2 separate regions of the Homo sapiens genome follow, and region 2 is linked to region 1. A link means that fine-mapping ties the variant in region 1 to the expression of a gene that starts in the linked region. Tissue or cell type: whole blood. Region 1 holds a variant in brackets; the other region holds the start of a gene. All regions are shown on one strand. Distances are from middle to middle.

Region 1 (8,108 bases):
AGAATATAGAGAAAGGTAACAAGATCATCAGTAATCAGTCCACTACATTAGAAAATATTTAAAACTTTGACTTCCTGGACAATGAGCAAATTTAAAAAAAATGTAAAGGGGCCAATTATTTTCTAAGCTACTTTAAATTTCAAACAAGTACAGTATTTACTATGAAAGTTCTATAATACCTTATATAATCAGGCCAAATTTGGGGATTTAAGCCTTCCAAATCACAACCCCTCTGACAGGATTTTCAACTTCAAAGTAGTCAGCATTTTTTAAATCTGGCGTGTAAAAACCTCTGACTGCAGGAGAATTACGACTCCAATTACAAAAGACACACATTCCAATAGTCAAAACCATAGCTGTAGAAGAAAGAACTTCAAAATCTTATGAGAAAAGAATTGAAAACGATTAAACAAGATTAAGAGCAGAATTAAACAAGATTTGCATTCTGCCAATGCAGAAATATCACAGAAGAGAGGGAAATTAGATGAATGTATTTAAATTTATTTACCCAGGTTAATTTACAATAGTATTCTAAGCTCAATCAATATGGAGCCTGAAGATTATGAAAAGGAGTATGGGAAAAGAAGTAAAAGACAAGTTTAAAACAATGCTAGGAACAAAAAAACAAAAAATACAAAACAATAAAAAAGAATAAAACAATGCTAGCAAATTTTTATGAGTAGAAAATGAAAGGAACAAATGAAAATTAAGGCTTCCAATGAACTTGCCAGGCAATCTAAACTCAACATTTAAAGTACCAAAGATAACACAGAAGACAAGGAAAAGCAATGGAGGAAAAAATATCAACTACTGAACCAAAGTAGCTATCACACATGAGGCAGAGAAGTAAATGAAAAAGAATAACCCCTCACCCATCTAGATACACTTGAGAAACAGAACAAAAGACTTCCAAATAATTAAAATGCCACAAGGGTCATGTGTTTAAAGCTAAAATGCCATTCCCTGGAGCAAAGTCACTATTTTACACACAATTCTAAACAGTTTCATTCAGTTTCCAAGTAGCAAACAAGAAATGGCAAGATAATCATAACAACATGCAAGTTGGGGTAGGGGACAACGAAAGGGGAAACAAAAACTATGAAGCAAGCAAGAATTCAGAGTTCAAGTTTTAGGACCAAGCGGCATAAAGGCACAAACAACTATACAAATCAATAGTGAAGGGACATAAGTGTATTTTAACACTGTATCATGATCATCATAATTTCTATGAATAAATCTGCATTAACAAAAAAATAGTTCAATAGGCTCTGTTTCTTCTGTTTATGAAGCTAGAAGAAGACTTCTAATAAAAGATGGGGCGCTAAATACAAACTTTCCCTTCAGTTACTCCAGATACTCCACTGAAATAAAAACAACTCATAAAAGAAAGAAAATCGTAACAGTAAAGAAATTAAAATTGAGGCTAGAAAGAAAATCCAACAAATTTCTGGGAAATGAAAGTATATGTGAGATTGATAGAAATAACAAGCGGAAAAAGCCACAGCCTCATTATAACCTTTAAGAGTGACATGGAAAGGATGGGAACCAATACGTCTGAGAAGATCCCCAGGAAAGCATGATTATAAAGTAAATGGTACAGCAGAGGGTGGAAATAAATAGTAGGGTTAAAAATAAGAGAACTGAGTATTACTTGACTAACTATAAGGGACAGCTATATCTCCCATCCCCTATTTCCAAGCAGTTTCTAAACAACTGACATTTTACCTCCAGGCAAAAAAACAAGTCAGCTTTTCCCTAAAGAAAGTGAACCACTATCTAGGGAAAGCTAAGCGGAGGTGTGGCACAGAGTAAACACATCTCATCCAGCATTTAAAGGGCCCATACATAGCCTAGCAGCTAGCTCCTCTCTCTTTTACCCTAAAACAATCTGCCAAGAGACAGATCCTACTCTGTACTACCTTGCCCCACAAAGTGCTCTGGCCAGAATTCCTACTCAAAGAAAAAAAAATCTAATAGGGAAAACAGTCCAAGGAACAGGGGAGGGAGGGTGACCAGGAACCTAGTCTGTCTTTCTTAACCATGAATGGACAACCAAGAATTATCAGGCACATAAGGAAAACTGAGCATGAAAAAAGAATGATTACAAAAACAAACATAAAAACTGACCGGAGGAGAAAAGGAGATAAATTAGACACAAGGAGACACAAGGTATCTTTAAAAAAATCTAATTTGCACATTCTAAGACTCAAGACGACAATACAACATAGTGTAAAAATGGTGGGAAAAGAAAAAGAGAACAACAAAACTTACAGATTACCCCCAGGAAAATCAGCCAAAATACTAAAGGGGAAAAAAAACCCACAAAATATAAAAGATGAGAGAAGGAAGATCAAGACAGAAAGCAACTGCCTACTGAAAAGCAAAAAACATGATGAAGGGAGGAAATTATTAAAGACAGAGAAGAGTTTCCTGGAATTGGAAAAATAATCTGATTCAGACTGTAAGAGCAACTGAGTATCTAGACAAACAGCCAAACAAAACAAAAATGACCTATACACCTCATTATGACTTTGTAGAAGATACAAAAGAACGGATTCTAAAAGTTTTCAGACAGAATAAAGAACAAATCACCTTAAAAGGATAGTGAATCAGACTGATACATGACTCCTTCTTTTTTTCTTTTGAGACGGAGTCTCACCCAGGCTAGAGTGCAGTAGTTTGATCTCGGCTCACTGCAACGTCCACCTCCCAGGTTCAAGTGATTCTCCTGCCTCAGACTCCTAAGTAGCTGGGATTACAGGCACCTGCCACCATGCCCAGCTAATTTTTAGTAGAGACAGGGTTTCACTATGTTGGCCAGGCTGGTCTCAAACTCTTGACCTCATGATCCACCCGCCTCGGCCTCCCAAAGTGCTGGGATTACAGGCGTTGATGTATGACTTCTAATCAGCATCCCTAGATGCTAGAAGACAACAAAGCAATCCTTTCAGGGTTCTAAAGGAAAATTATTTCTAACTAACAATATTGTACCCAGCCAAATTATCAATCATTTGTGAGAATAGAATGGAGACTTTTTTACACAGAATTCGGAAAGTTTGCCTCTCATACATACTTCTTTTTCAAAGAGTTATTTGAAGATGTACTCCAATAAACAGATCAAGCAGATGCAAAAAAAAAAAAGGAAAAAAAAATATGTATAACAGAATGGATCCAATTCAAGAGTAAGGAGAAAGGAAGTTACAAGAAAAGACCTAGAAGAGTCCAAATGGAGGCAGAGTTACAGACAAATACAGATAAATAGAGAATGCAGCACAAAAGGCAGTATGCTGAAGAGTTGGGGTGTGGGGGGGCTGGGGTGTAGGGGAGGCTATAATAGAGGCATATAGTACAAGAAAAGAGGGCAATTTAAGACACTAAGAAAAACAGGAAGTCCTATTCAAAAACTTTTTTAATTCCAAAGTTAGATTTTGGTCATATCCAAATTTTTTTTTAATTTGATGGTCAGAATTGATAAAATAAATAAAGTCTACTAATTCTCTATATTATCAACATGTTTCTTCTGGCAGCCCAGGGACAGAAAAGGAATAATCATCTAAGCACATTATCTGGCTTAGCATTAAATAATACTTACACAGTCATGGTATCAACACTATTTATTGGTTTTCATAATTTAGAGACAACCTGTGGACATGACAGCTGAGATTACAGGGGAAAAAACGTGTATTTGTTTAGGCCAGGGGTGTCCAATCATTTGGCTTCCCTGGACCACACTGGAAGAGAAGAATTGTCTTGGGCCACCCATAAAATACACTAACACTAACAATAGCTGATGAGCTTTAAAAAACAAAAAAATCTCCTTATGTTTTAAGAAAGTTTATGAATTTGTGTTGGGCCGCATTCAAAACTGTCCTGGGCCGTGCGCAGCTCACCAGCCAGGGATTGGACAAGCTTAGTCTAGCCAATAAAAAGTACAGCTACTGGTTTAGAAGAAATAATCACAAGGTAATAAATGGAAAATTCAAGTAATTTCTAAAGCTGATAAAGAGAAAGGTGAATCAACATTAAGGCTGGGTACCAGGGTTCATGCCTGTAATCCCAACATTTTGGGAGGCAGGAGTTCAAATTCAGCCTATGCAAAATAGCGAAACCCTGTCTGTACAAAAAAAATAAAGTAGCCAGCCACAGTGGCACAAACCTGTAGTCCTAGCTACTGGGGAAGGTGAGGCAGGAGGATCCTTTGAGCTCAGGAATTCTGCACTCCAGCCTGGAGTGCAGGAGACAGGAGGAGACTCTGTCACTCAAAAAATAATACAAACATATATATAGTATATCAAGGAAGAGAGGAAAACACACACACACACACTAGAAACTAGGATGTTTTATAAAAACAACATAGCTTCCTTTATTGGATATACAGAAATGAACTGCTCCCCATGAACCTTACCCAACCCCTAAAAGGGGAAAAAGTTCTTTAATTAAGGATAATAGTTTCTTTCCATTTAAAATCATTTCTTTCAGATTCACTCATTCACTCAATCTTTAAAG[C/G]AGTAGTTCTCTACTGAGAGTGACCTTGTCCCCAGGGAACATCTGGCAATATCTTGAAACATTTTTCATTGTCACAATTAAGAAAGATGGTACTAGCATCTAGTGAGTAGAGGCCAGGGATGGTGCTATACATTCTACAATGCACAGGAACACACAACAAAGAATTATCCAGCCCAAAATATCAACAGAGTCAAGTTAAGAAACCCTACTTTAAGAAAACTCTTCAGACTTGTATAGATTTTCTCTGTTCCTCATTCTTATCATGGTGACTGGGCGTAAGATAAAGCTTTCATGGGCATCTGGAGTATTATGATTAGCCTGAATACAGACCCATGGATTGCCCTGGGGATCCTCACAGGCCTCTAAGGTTTGAATATTGGCCCTCACAGAGTCACAATGGCACATGCTGATGAATATGTTGGAACAGTATCCAGAGGATCTCCTAACTTGGCCCCACCCACCTCAGCTCCTGCTGGTACGGATATTATTACAGTCTCGACTACCTCGTCTATCCAGTCCCTGGCTTATACTTAAGGCAACACTAGCTGCTTAACAAATAAACCCCAGATTTTCGGTAGCTTCACACAATTAAAATTTCTCATTAATATTACAATCCATTGTGGGTATTCCTATTTGGTACACAAATTTCTTTCACATGGTAAATTTAGGGACTGTAGAACATTCCAATCTTATGGTTTTACTATCCCTTAAGAGCCTAAACCTCTGCATCTGGCCCTTGAATTAGAAAAGAGAAGGTGAAGAAAGAATACCTATTTTTTCTGCCACTTCAACCCAGAAGTGACAACAAATTGATTTCTATTCACATTCACTAGTGAAAAACTAGTGGCAGGCACAGTGGCTCACACCTGTAATGCCAGCACTTTGGGAGGCTGAGGCGGGCAGATCGCTTGAACTCAGCAGTTAGAGACCAGCCTGGGCAACATGGTGAAACCCCATCTCTACCAAAAATACAAAAAATTTGCCAGGCACGGTGGCACATCCCTGTAGTACCAGCTACTCGGAAGGCTAAGGCACAAGAATCACTTGAGCCCAGGAGGCGAAGGTTGCAGTGAGCCAAGATCCTGCCACTGCACTCTGGCCTGAGCAACAGAGCGATACCCCATGTCTCCAAAAAAAAAAAAAAAAAAAAAAAAAAAATGTTGCAAGCAAGAGGGAGCACAAATTTTTGTGGGCAATGAAATGAATCTGCCCTTCCCACAACCTCTGTCTACTACATGGTCCCTCCCTCACAATAGCAGCCTAATGACAGGCTTCCTGGCTCTCACTCTACTAACTTCTATTTCCTTCACTAGTCATATGTGAGAACATCCAGATCTCTTTCAGACCATGTAAGAACCATGGAAAACTCACAGAGTGCTATCTCTGGCCCCCTCTCTGCTTAAATATGCCATTTTCTTCCCTTTTGGCCACCCCAAGTCAGCATAGGGCCAGTGCAATAGGCTAGTAAGTGGCTGTACCAGTTCTGAACTTTGGCAGTCTGGCTCCAGGGTTCGTGCTATTCTGCCTCTCCAGATTTCTAAAATAGGTGATAAGACAGAGCACTTCCATTACTACCAATGGATATTTGTAAAGCACCTACATCTTGCAAAACAGCCTAGAACTATTACAAACTCCACACTATGATGCACAGCACTGCTTTTCTTTACTTCCAAATTGCTGATCTTACAAGTTATTATAATCATAACAATGCACAAAATTACACACTAAGCAAAGCTAGTCTCCAGAAGTCCCTCATCCTACTCTCCACTTGAACAATGTACCTGTGCCCTCACATCCAAAGCACCCCACCTCATTACTCTACCCGGTAATAATGTTACTTAGATTGAACTTCTCTCTCTCCAGATCTACCATACTTCCATCCCATCAAAATATACCAACATAGATTCCATAATTTCCACATGGGCCCCAGCCTTCCTTGTAAAAAATTATGTAATCTGACAAACTATTCCTGCTAATATGTAGGCATTTGGCAGCCAAAAAGCAAAAATTACCTTACTGGTGGTCATCTCAACAGGACAGATTTCAACTGTACAGATCTGTGTCCCTCAAATATCACTAAATAGGCCTGGCATGGCAGCTCACATCTATAATCCCAGCACTTTGGGAGACCAAGGTGGGAGAATCATTTGAGGCTAGGGGTTCAAGACCAAGCTGGGCAACATAGTGAGACTCTGTTTCTAAAAAAAAAAAAAAAAACTTAAAAATTAGCCAGGTGTGATGGTATTCGCCTGTAGTCCCAGCTACTTGGGAGGCAGAGACAGGAGGATCACTTGAGCCTGGGAGGTCGAGGCTGCAGTGAGCCATGGTAGTGAGTGCCACTGCACTCCAGCCTAGGTGACAGCTCAAGACCCTGTATCAGAAGAAAAAAAAAAAAGGCCAGAGGAGGTAGCTCACGCCTGTAATCTCAACACTTTGGGAGGACGAGGCAGGTGGATCACTTTACGTCAGGAGTTCGAGAACAGCCTGGCCAATATGGTGAAACCCCATCTCTACTAAAAATACAAAAAATTAGCTGGGCATGGTGGCATGCACCCGTAATCCCAGCTACTCAGGAGGCTCAGGCATGAGAATCACTTGAAACCGGGAGGCAGAGGTTGCAGTGAGCCAAGATCACACTACTGCACTCCAGCCTAGGTGACACAGTGAGACTCTATCTCAAAAAAAAAAAAAAAAAAACACTAAAAAAAAATGCATACCAATTCTGTGAATCAGCCTTATTCTTTAAAACTATTTTTTAATTATAACAACTTAGCTTTAAATACTGTTATCTATTATGTTCTTTAATTTCCAGTTACTCCGAAATTCTCTGAAATTCCCCAGTGAGAAAATGGCAACTGGATGAACAATAAAATAAATATTTGCTTTACTCTAAGTATTTTTAAGATTTAAAAATAGGATGTCAGTCAAATACAAGTAAAATGAGAGAAAAAAAATCAAGGCTATATTCCATCTTCTTATAAAGTAAAGTGCATTTTGTAAATGACACAACTAAAACAGACTCAGGAAGATCACAAGGTCAAGACGTATCAAGAGGAGCAACTGCAAATAAATTATACAAGGCAGTATATAATATGATGGTTAAAAGGATAGGCTCCAAAGTCAAAGGTCAGGTTAAACCTCAAGTTTAAATCCTTTTAGTAGGCTCTACCACCTACTACTTAACTTCTCTGTGCCTCAGGTTTAGTTCAAATCCTGGCTCCACCACTTATTTAATCTGTCAGTTGCTCAGGTTTAAAAAAAAGAAAATAGCCTGATTGCGGGGTGGTTGTCAGGATCAAATGTGATGACATGTCAAGTACTTCTAGAGTAGTACAGTACCTGGTATATAGCAGTTGACGCACATTAGCTATTAATATGACCTATAACAATTTCCCTCTGAATCTATCAAGTTTTCAAAAACTCTAAATCAAAAAGCTTCTCCTTTTTATTTGAAAAAAGTCAAGCTCTGAAACCATTTCCTCTTTTTTTCAGTCCTTTTTGAATATGGAAATTAGTAGGTAACTGGCTTATCATTTGATGACTCTTCTTAGTCTTTGTATAATAAAAAGGCTCAAGACTCTTCTTAGTCTTTTTATAATAAA
Region 2 (8,108 bases), 200 kb before region 1:
GACCAAGTGCCAAACGTACAAAGACCCAGTCCTACCTCAACAGGGCTCCTGGACTAGTGACTATACCTATTAAATGCTTATCATATGCAAAGCACTGGGCATGTCTGGAAGTCATTAAATGCTTACAGTAATGGAGGAGTGTTTTAAACAACCACAAAAAAAGCAAAGTGACCAAATGACCTGAAAGGCAATTAAAAAAAAAATGAAAAAAATTATGCAGCAGTTTTAAAGTTCATTCATCCATGAATTCAGCAAAAGAGCTAATTTATTCTCTCCATATTCACAGAAACAAAATAATGCATCATATAGCATAAATGTTTAAAAAATCAGAATTACATTTAATATAAAAAATTTTGATATTATAGTTTTTAAAATACATTAGTCAACACTTATTCAACTATAATTAAAGTTTTTTTTCTTCAGTCAATCCCAAGTAAGAATCTGTTGAATAAGTAAACTGGAAACATGTATTTAAAGGAATGAATTAAAGATAACACTGTTTTGTTCAACAAGCACTTCTGAATACTTGGAGTAAATACAGCACTGTTTTGGGTATTACAGAGAACTGATAAAGGTAGAAAACACTGTCCTTGTCCATGATAAGATGCATCATATTATTTACATTGACAAGTTTTTAAAATATGAACATTTGTAAATGAAATAAATTAGAAATAAAAATTAAAAATAAAACAGAAATAAACATTAGAAATAAAAATTGTCAAATTATTTGTTACTGTGGAACTCTGGCTATGCACCAGATACAAGAAAAACCAGTAAATACATGACATATCCTTACAAGCTCTTGGGGTCAGGAGAAAATCAAAGTATTAATTGCATATCCTTTCTAGTATTAACCTTTTACTACAGAAATGAAAGAGTTAACAATGCACAGTTATATTTCAGGTAACATATATTCAAAGGTATATCAAAGGTGAAAATCTATCCAAGTTTTCCAAATGAAGTGGCAGTAAACCAATGACCACATAAAAGTAAAAATTAATTTTATGCTTTTTGAAAAAAAATTTGAGCCTTTTACTCACTGCTAATTTAATTTTATGCTTTTTGAAAAAAATAATTTGAGCCTTTTACTCAGCTTTACAAAGTATGAGTAGGGAAAATTAATGCAAATAATGTATTCAATATTAAAAACAATTAGAATAAGCCCACCCAAATCAGAGATTAAATGATTCTATGAACTAAACATGTAACGATGAAGGAGGGCTGGAGTGAAAAAGATACAGGAGAGTAAAAAGGAGCTATAAAGAAAAACCCTCCCCTAAACACATAGGCTAACACAGAGCTGAGACACAGAGGCATAAAATAGGGAAAAAACAGACACACTTAGCCAAATCTTGGCTTCCCCTCTAGATTTGTTCCATAAAGTAATTTAATATTTGTATCTGGTCTGGTGACCTTAGTGTGCTTCTTCTAAAGACTTTTAAAGTTACGCTATTTTCCTAAGTAGACTGAACTGACTTTAGAACCAGTGGTCACATGACTGCTTTACTTGGCTTGAGTTAGATGAAAAGTTTGGTTAATTAAAAACTTCTGATGTTATAGTTCATCTTCTGAATCTTGATTGTGAACTTTCTGAGGGTGTCTCTTAACAGTGATTACCATGTCAATGGTTAATATTTTTGTCAAACACTGAAGAACTGAAGTTAGTAGCTGGTATTTACCCATTACTGATTCCAAACCTGTCTGACTGCTTACCAAGGGTTGATTGGTTTGCAGTGCATGGACAGCTCTTATATATGTATGTGGAAAGCTGTACTTTCCTGTTTTAGATTTATAAAGGACTTTGGGAATGCCTAAAAGTGCATTAGCTATTATCATACTAACCATGGTTTCTTCTGATTGATGGCATTTTTTGGCATAATTGAGAAGATAGTAATGTAACAAGATCTCAAAATTACCACCTACTGGCAAAACACAACCAGCTGGCATAGATGAGGAAAGGTAACTCTGGGAAGTACCCATATTCGGTAACTTACAGCTCACTGGTAACATGCTTCCCTTTCTAGTAATATTTGTGACCTGTAAATTTTCGTAAGAAATTTCTATTCTATTTCCCCTTGTTGAATAAGCAGTGGAATTGTTCTTGAGTAATGGTTCATAATAATCAGTTAGCCTGTTTCTTTCCAAAGACAAACATGTCAGCGTTTCAACTGTTTGGAATGTATCTGTTGGTGTCAGTGTGGGGGTTGAATACGGAATATATGTTTCTAATTCTACATCTGGAATTACCAAATTAGAATGTACTTTTAAATATGTTTGAGTTTTTTCCAATGCATCTTTGTTCTCTGCAACTGTGTCCTGATAAGGCCTTTGTATTGAGCCATTACCAGGATCTGGTGCTTGATAACTTTCTCCACTGTTCTTATAAATAAAAAGACTTGAAGTGCCATTTTGGTCATTGGTTTGTGTCATGTAATTTAGATCAAGGTCTTTAAATAATTGCCGAAGCATTTTAAGTGCTCCATGTAAAGCATCCTCATGTTGTTCAATGAGACCATGCACTGGTCCACAAAGAACTATAGAGTGTGGTATAAATGCACATGTGCTTATCAAGCCTAGATGAACATATCTTTTGGATCTAAGGATAAGAGGTTTACAAAATTTCACCAAAGCAGTGTTAGGTATTTCACACTGCGAAAAGGCCTGTGGTGGTACAAATGGAGAAAGACCAATGATCCTCCGGATAAGAGAAACTTCTTCTGATGATAAACACTCAACCACTGATATGCCATTCACCCCTGCATAATAACTAACTAAATCTGGTTGTTTCACACTAGATATGAGCAATTTTACATTCTGACTATGTAGATGTTTCATTATTGCTTTTGTCTTTTCCATAATCCAAAATTGAGATGTCTGAAACTGTGCTTCTGAATTTAGAATAAACTCTGATCCAGAAGTGGAAAAAAGAGGCTGAATGGTTTCTGTTACTATCACCATTCGCATGTCACCATCTGCTGGGCGGTACACAGAAAAATCTTTCTGAAGCACAAGACCAGCTATGATCCTGGAATCTGAAACAGGAAGGCCAGTGACACCAACATTCAACTCTACAAAATGGTCATCCACTAACTCAAATACACCAATCCCACTTTTACAAGTCATACACTTGAAAAAGTAGTCACACATCAACTGTGAAATAAATTTATGATTATTTCTTCCCACTCTTCCACAAAAGTATGCTTCTAAGAGCAACTCTAAAGAGCTCCTACACAATGTTCTCTCTTTAGCAGACGAAAAGATAGACAAAAAGTGTCTACTTAGGTACTGGTCCATAATACCGTCTAATATTTGTGTCTGAAACGTTAGGAGAGCCTGGGAAATAAATTTCCACCGAGAACAATTTTTCCAATGCCTTCCATGGGTTTGAATGTTTTCACACATCAAAGGATCCTTTTCTCTGTCTGTGATTGCATGAAGTCCTCTAAGCAAATGGCAAAGAAAGATAATAAATGTTTTTGCACCATCTCCTGTTTTTTTGAGATGACTGGAAACACAGTCCACTATCATCCTGTACAAAAAAGAAATAAAGCAACTCATTTTCAGAAGGCTGGCTTCCCACATCTTAAAACCATGTTTACACAGCCATAAGCATAAAATGAGAATATTGTTCCTTGGATACATCCTTAGTTTTTTCCTTTCTTGGAAAAAACTCTGCTCTATTCCAAGATTCCACCGTTGGGTGGAGTGGGGAGAAGTGGTCTTGAGAATTGGTAAGATTTGGGGTGCAGGAGTGTTCCCTTGGGCAGGGCTCTAATTCCGAGCATACAGCGGTTTCACCCGAGGTCAGTCTTTCTAAGTACGCATCGCCTCAGGATGGGACAAGAGCTCCACAGAGGCTGCCTGGGGTGCCCGGCTACGGGTTAGCGTGTGGGACGCGGGTACCTGGCTATGGGATGCTCTAAGTGTAGCGCCTCCAGGAGGCGGCCTCCATTCCGGCTGAGAAGCACCTCGCCAGTGGGCTTCGTACACAAAACTTGCCGTCCCTCGGGCCCCACGCAGCAGCTCACGATGGCTTCCAGCACCTCGGCCACCTGCAACGCCGCCTTCACAGACCCTGCAGCGGCCATAGAACTTAACATATCTGGGCCGCTTCCCCTTTTTGACCAGCTTGCAGAACACCCGGGCCGACCGAAAACAGGGGTGGGAACGGCCGGAAACGGAATAGGCGGGGAGAAAACCCGGAAGCCAGGAGTCGAAGCCGGGGTAGCACGGCTTCTTGGTTGGGCGAGAGGGCTGCCCTTCTGTCCGCCTGGTGGAAAAGCCCTGCAGCTTTGCCAGGTGGGGTGAGCTGGCCCGTTGTACGCGAAGGCAGAAAAAACAGACTAGGATTTCCAGCAGCTGTGCCTGGAGCGGCAACCCTAAGCCCCTCCCCGGCTCCCTAGGTGAATTCATCTCCCTCCAGTGGCGTCCGCTGCCCCCAAATCCCTTAGTCTCCCGAGAAACTTTCTTCCTAAGTCAACACGGTAGTGGGGCCTGCGTGAAGGAGAGGGCACCCCGGTTGGAACTCTGCTGGCTTTCATCCCCTGCCAGAAGCTGCTTTTTCCGGGGCAAAACCTCTGCCTTGGATTCACGCATGTTCCTGTCCACATTCCCCACGAGTTGCTCTCCTTACCATAACGGAAATAATTTGTAGATGCAGGACAGGTGAGGAGAGCCTGGCCACAGCCATGAATTGCAGGCTTTATGTCTGCTGCAGAGGCTTTACCACATTTCCTAGACTCAGGTATCACAATAAAACTCTAGACACCACAAATATATTAAGCAGAAATGATGCGAAGTCTCTATTTTTTGAGATGGACTCCCGCTCTGTCGCCCAGGCTGGAGTGCAGTGGCGCAATCTCGGCTGACTGCAACCTCCGCCTCCCGGGCTCAAGCGATTCCCGTGCCTCAGCCTCTCAAGTAGCTGGGATTACAGGCATACGCCACTGTGCCCCGCCAATATTTGTATTTTTAGTAGAGATGGGGATGTCACCATGTTGACCAGGCTGGTCTCGAACTCATGACCTGAATGATCCACCTGCCACGGCCTTTCAGAGTGTTGGGATTACAGGCATGAGCCGCTGTGCAGATTTAAATCCATTAATCACGTCGGTGATCAACAGTATGCTTTAAAACACATGGCCAAGGATTATTGTATATAACCCAAAGACAGAAAATACTGTCTCTTATAACATTTTTTTTGTTTTTTAAGAGATGAAGTTTCACTCTGCCGCCCAGGCTGGAGTGCAGTGGCGAGATCATAGCTTACTGCAGCTCCGCATTCCTGAGCTCGTGATCCTCCTGTCTTAGCCTTCAAGTCGCTTTGTGCCTCACTACGCCTGGTTATTTTCTCTTTTAGTAGAGACAGGGTCTCCCTGTGTTGCCCAGGCTGATCTTGAATTCCTGGCCTCAAGTGATCCTCCCAACTTGGCCTTCCAAAGTTTTAGGATTACAGGCATGAGCCACCTTGCCTGGCCTAAAACACAGGCACTTGAGAGCATGGGCTTTGGATTCAGACCTGGATTTGCTCTGTCATTTCCTTACCTGTGGCATTCACCAAGTAACCTCTTTGATCTCTGCTTTTCTCATCTTTAAAAACAATGGGCCTGCCGCAGTGGCTCATGGCTGTAATTCCAGGACTTTGGGAGGCCGAGGTGGGAGATCACAGGAGGCCGAGAGTTCAAGACCAGCATGGCCAACATAGCAAAATCCCGTCTCTACTAAAAATACAAAAATTAGCTGGGCATGGTGGTGCATGCTTGTAATCCCAGCTACTCTGGAGGCTGAGGTATGAGAATAATTTGAACTCGGGAAGGGAGGTTGCAGTGAGCCAAGATTGCACCACTGCACTCCAGCCTGGGCGACAGAGCGAGACCTTGTCTCAAAACAAAACAATCCCCGCCAAAAAAACCAGTGGAGATAACATATACAAAATAAAAATCTCAAGAGGTTTTGAGTAGGTGGAGAATGTTCACTAAACACTTTGCATAGTGCCTGGCATAGTTAGCACTCAACAGATATTTATATTACACCTGTTAGAGGAAAAGGGTCCCAATCCAGACCCCAAGAGAGGGTTCTTGGATCTCATGCAAGAAAGAATTCAGGACGAGTCCATAAAGTGAAAGCAAGTTTATTAAGAAAGAGGAATAAAAGAATGGTTACTCCATAGGCAAAGCAGCCCCAAGGGCTGCTGGTTGCCGATTTTTATGGTTATTTCTTGATGATATGCTAAACAAGGAGTGGATTATTTATGCCTCCCCTCTTTAGGCCATATAGGGTAACTTCCTGACATTGCCATGGCATTTGTAAACTGTCTTTGGTGCTGGTGGGAGTATAGCAGTGAGGACAACCAGAGGTCACTCTCGTGGCCATCTTGGTTTTGGTGGGTTTTGGCTGGCTTCTTTACTGCAACCTGTTTTATCAGCAAGGTCTTTATGACCTGTATCTTGTGCCAACCTCCTATCTCATCCTGTGACTTAGAATGCCTTAATCATCTGGGAATGCAGCCTAGATCTTAGCCTCATTTTACCCAGCTCCTATTCAAGATGGAGTTGCTCTGGTTCAGATGCCTCTGACGCACCCACCAAATTACTGGAGTTGCTCTGGTTCAGATGCCTCTGACGCACCCACCAAATTACTGTGGTAGGTCACCACTCTCCTGGTTTATTATTCCCACAAGTGATATTTTGTGAGATGCAGAAGATTCAACTAGCATAATGGCACAACATACATCATCTAGAGTCGAAGCATGCCAGTATTAGCAAGAAAATGATCTTGTAGATGTTTCACGAGGTTGGACAATGAGGGGCCGTTTTCCTTAATCCTTATTGCTATGAACAAGATAGGAGGAACCGGCAGGCCCTCCCATCTTTTTCTCCCCAATTAATAAAACCAAACCAAATGACAGCCAGAAGCAACTGGACCCTGAGCAGAGAGCAAGAATGGGAAGAAAGGAGGGTGGGGGAAAACCAGAGAGGAATGATGTCTCGGAACTCATCTGATGTTGACTCAGTATGGACTAATAGGTGATCTGAGGGGGGAAAAAAAAACCCTTTCATATGGATTTCGTATATGTTTAATAGTAGGGTTTTTTTGTGGTGCTACTCATAACAAAGGGGTTACATTACTCAATATAGATTCAAGCAGTGGATTATATTCCTGACATTTAGAAGTGAAGTGCTATTAGAGTTCTATTTAAGTGTACCACGGAGATACAGATTCAAACTTGTGCTTTTACTCTTAAAGTAAGAGTCGGCTACCACTCTTACTCCGCAGCTTTTGGAGACTTTCAACCTCTCTGAGCCTCAGCATCTTCATGTATAAAATCTGGCTAACGTCCACCTAAGGTTCTCATAGAGGATTCGAGAAGAATGAATATAAGGCACCAAGCAAAGCATACTTCAGGGATTCTCACTGTTGAATCCCTTTCAAGCCCTTTGCCATCCTTTGCAGCTATCCCTATCCCCACAAAAGGGGGGATTAAAACAAATTAGCAATAATTTAGTCATCATATTGTATTAAAAGTCACTTGATCACCGTTTGCTCTTTTTAAAAATTTTATTTAGAAGCCTACTTGTAGAAGTTAGCATAATTTTACAGATTATTAGAAAAATTCTTTTCTTTCTGCAAACAGTTATAATAGGTTAGGAATAATAGATTAGAAATGTACTACATTACAAAACAGTGGCCTATAACTATCTGTACATTTACTGTGCACCTTAAGGAAAAGAATTTGACAGTGTGCTGTACTTACACTGCAGGTAACATATTTTTATTCTATCACACAAAACTGACCAGTGGTAGTGCTTGAATTTATGAATGGCCATTAAACAGAACATTTAAACTCAGATGTATATTTAGCATGCTAAAAAGTGAAAAAAATTTCAACTGAAGTTCTGTGGCTCATCAGTTCAAATGTTTCATGGCATTTTTTTTCTTTAAGTGAAAAATTTTGATACTGTAAAACAGTTTTACATAATAAATGCAAAAAGATAACATTTTCTAAATTTTTAGAAAGAATATTCACATTCATTTTGTCATGGGTTTCACGTGGCTCTTCTAAATATATTAATCATATTAATAAGACACTGGTCCTATACAATTTCAAC

What was found. PIP is the estimated chance that this variant, and not a neighbour inherited with it, causes the effect.
Region 2: it holds the start of BBS10, and the variant in region 1 is fine-mapped to the expression of BBS10 in whole blood (TOPMed, PIP above 0.99).

Annotation. Positions count from the first base shown.
Region 1 is chr12:76,546,793-76,554,900 of GRCh38, forward strand. The region is part of intron 1 of OSBPL8 (oxysterol binding protein like 8); the gene reads right to left. Among named protein-coding and RNA genes, the nearest start is that of OSBPL8, 8.9 kb to the right of the region's middle. The variant C/G (reference allele first, on the strand shown) is at 4,507.
Region 2 is chr12:76,344,259-76,352,366 of GRCh38, forward strand. BBS10 (Bardet-Biedl syndrome 10) reads right to left here and starts at 4,157. Exons shown (of 2, transcript NM_024685.4): 1 at 3,904-4,157; 2 at 216-3,529. The coding sequence starts at 4,100. The coding sequence ends at 1,555. It overlaps OSBPL8 (oxysterol binding protein like 8), which reads right to left. Exons shown (of 24, transcript NM_020841.5): 24 at 7,539-8,108. RefSeq lists enhancers at 3,463-4,412, 4,413-5,362, 4,509-4,558.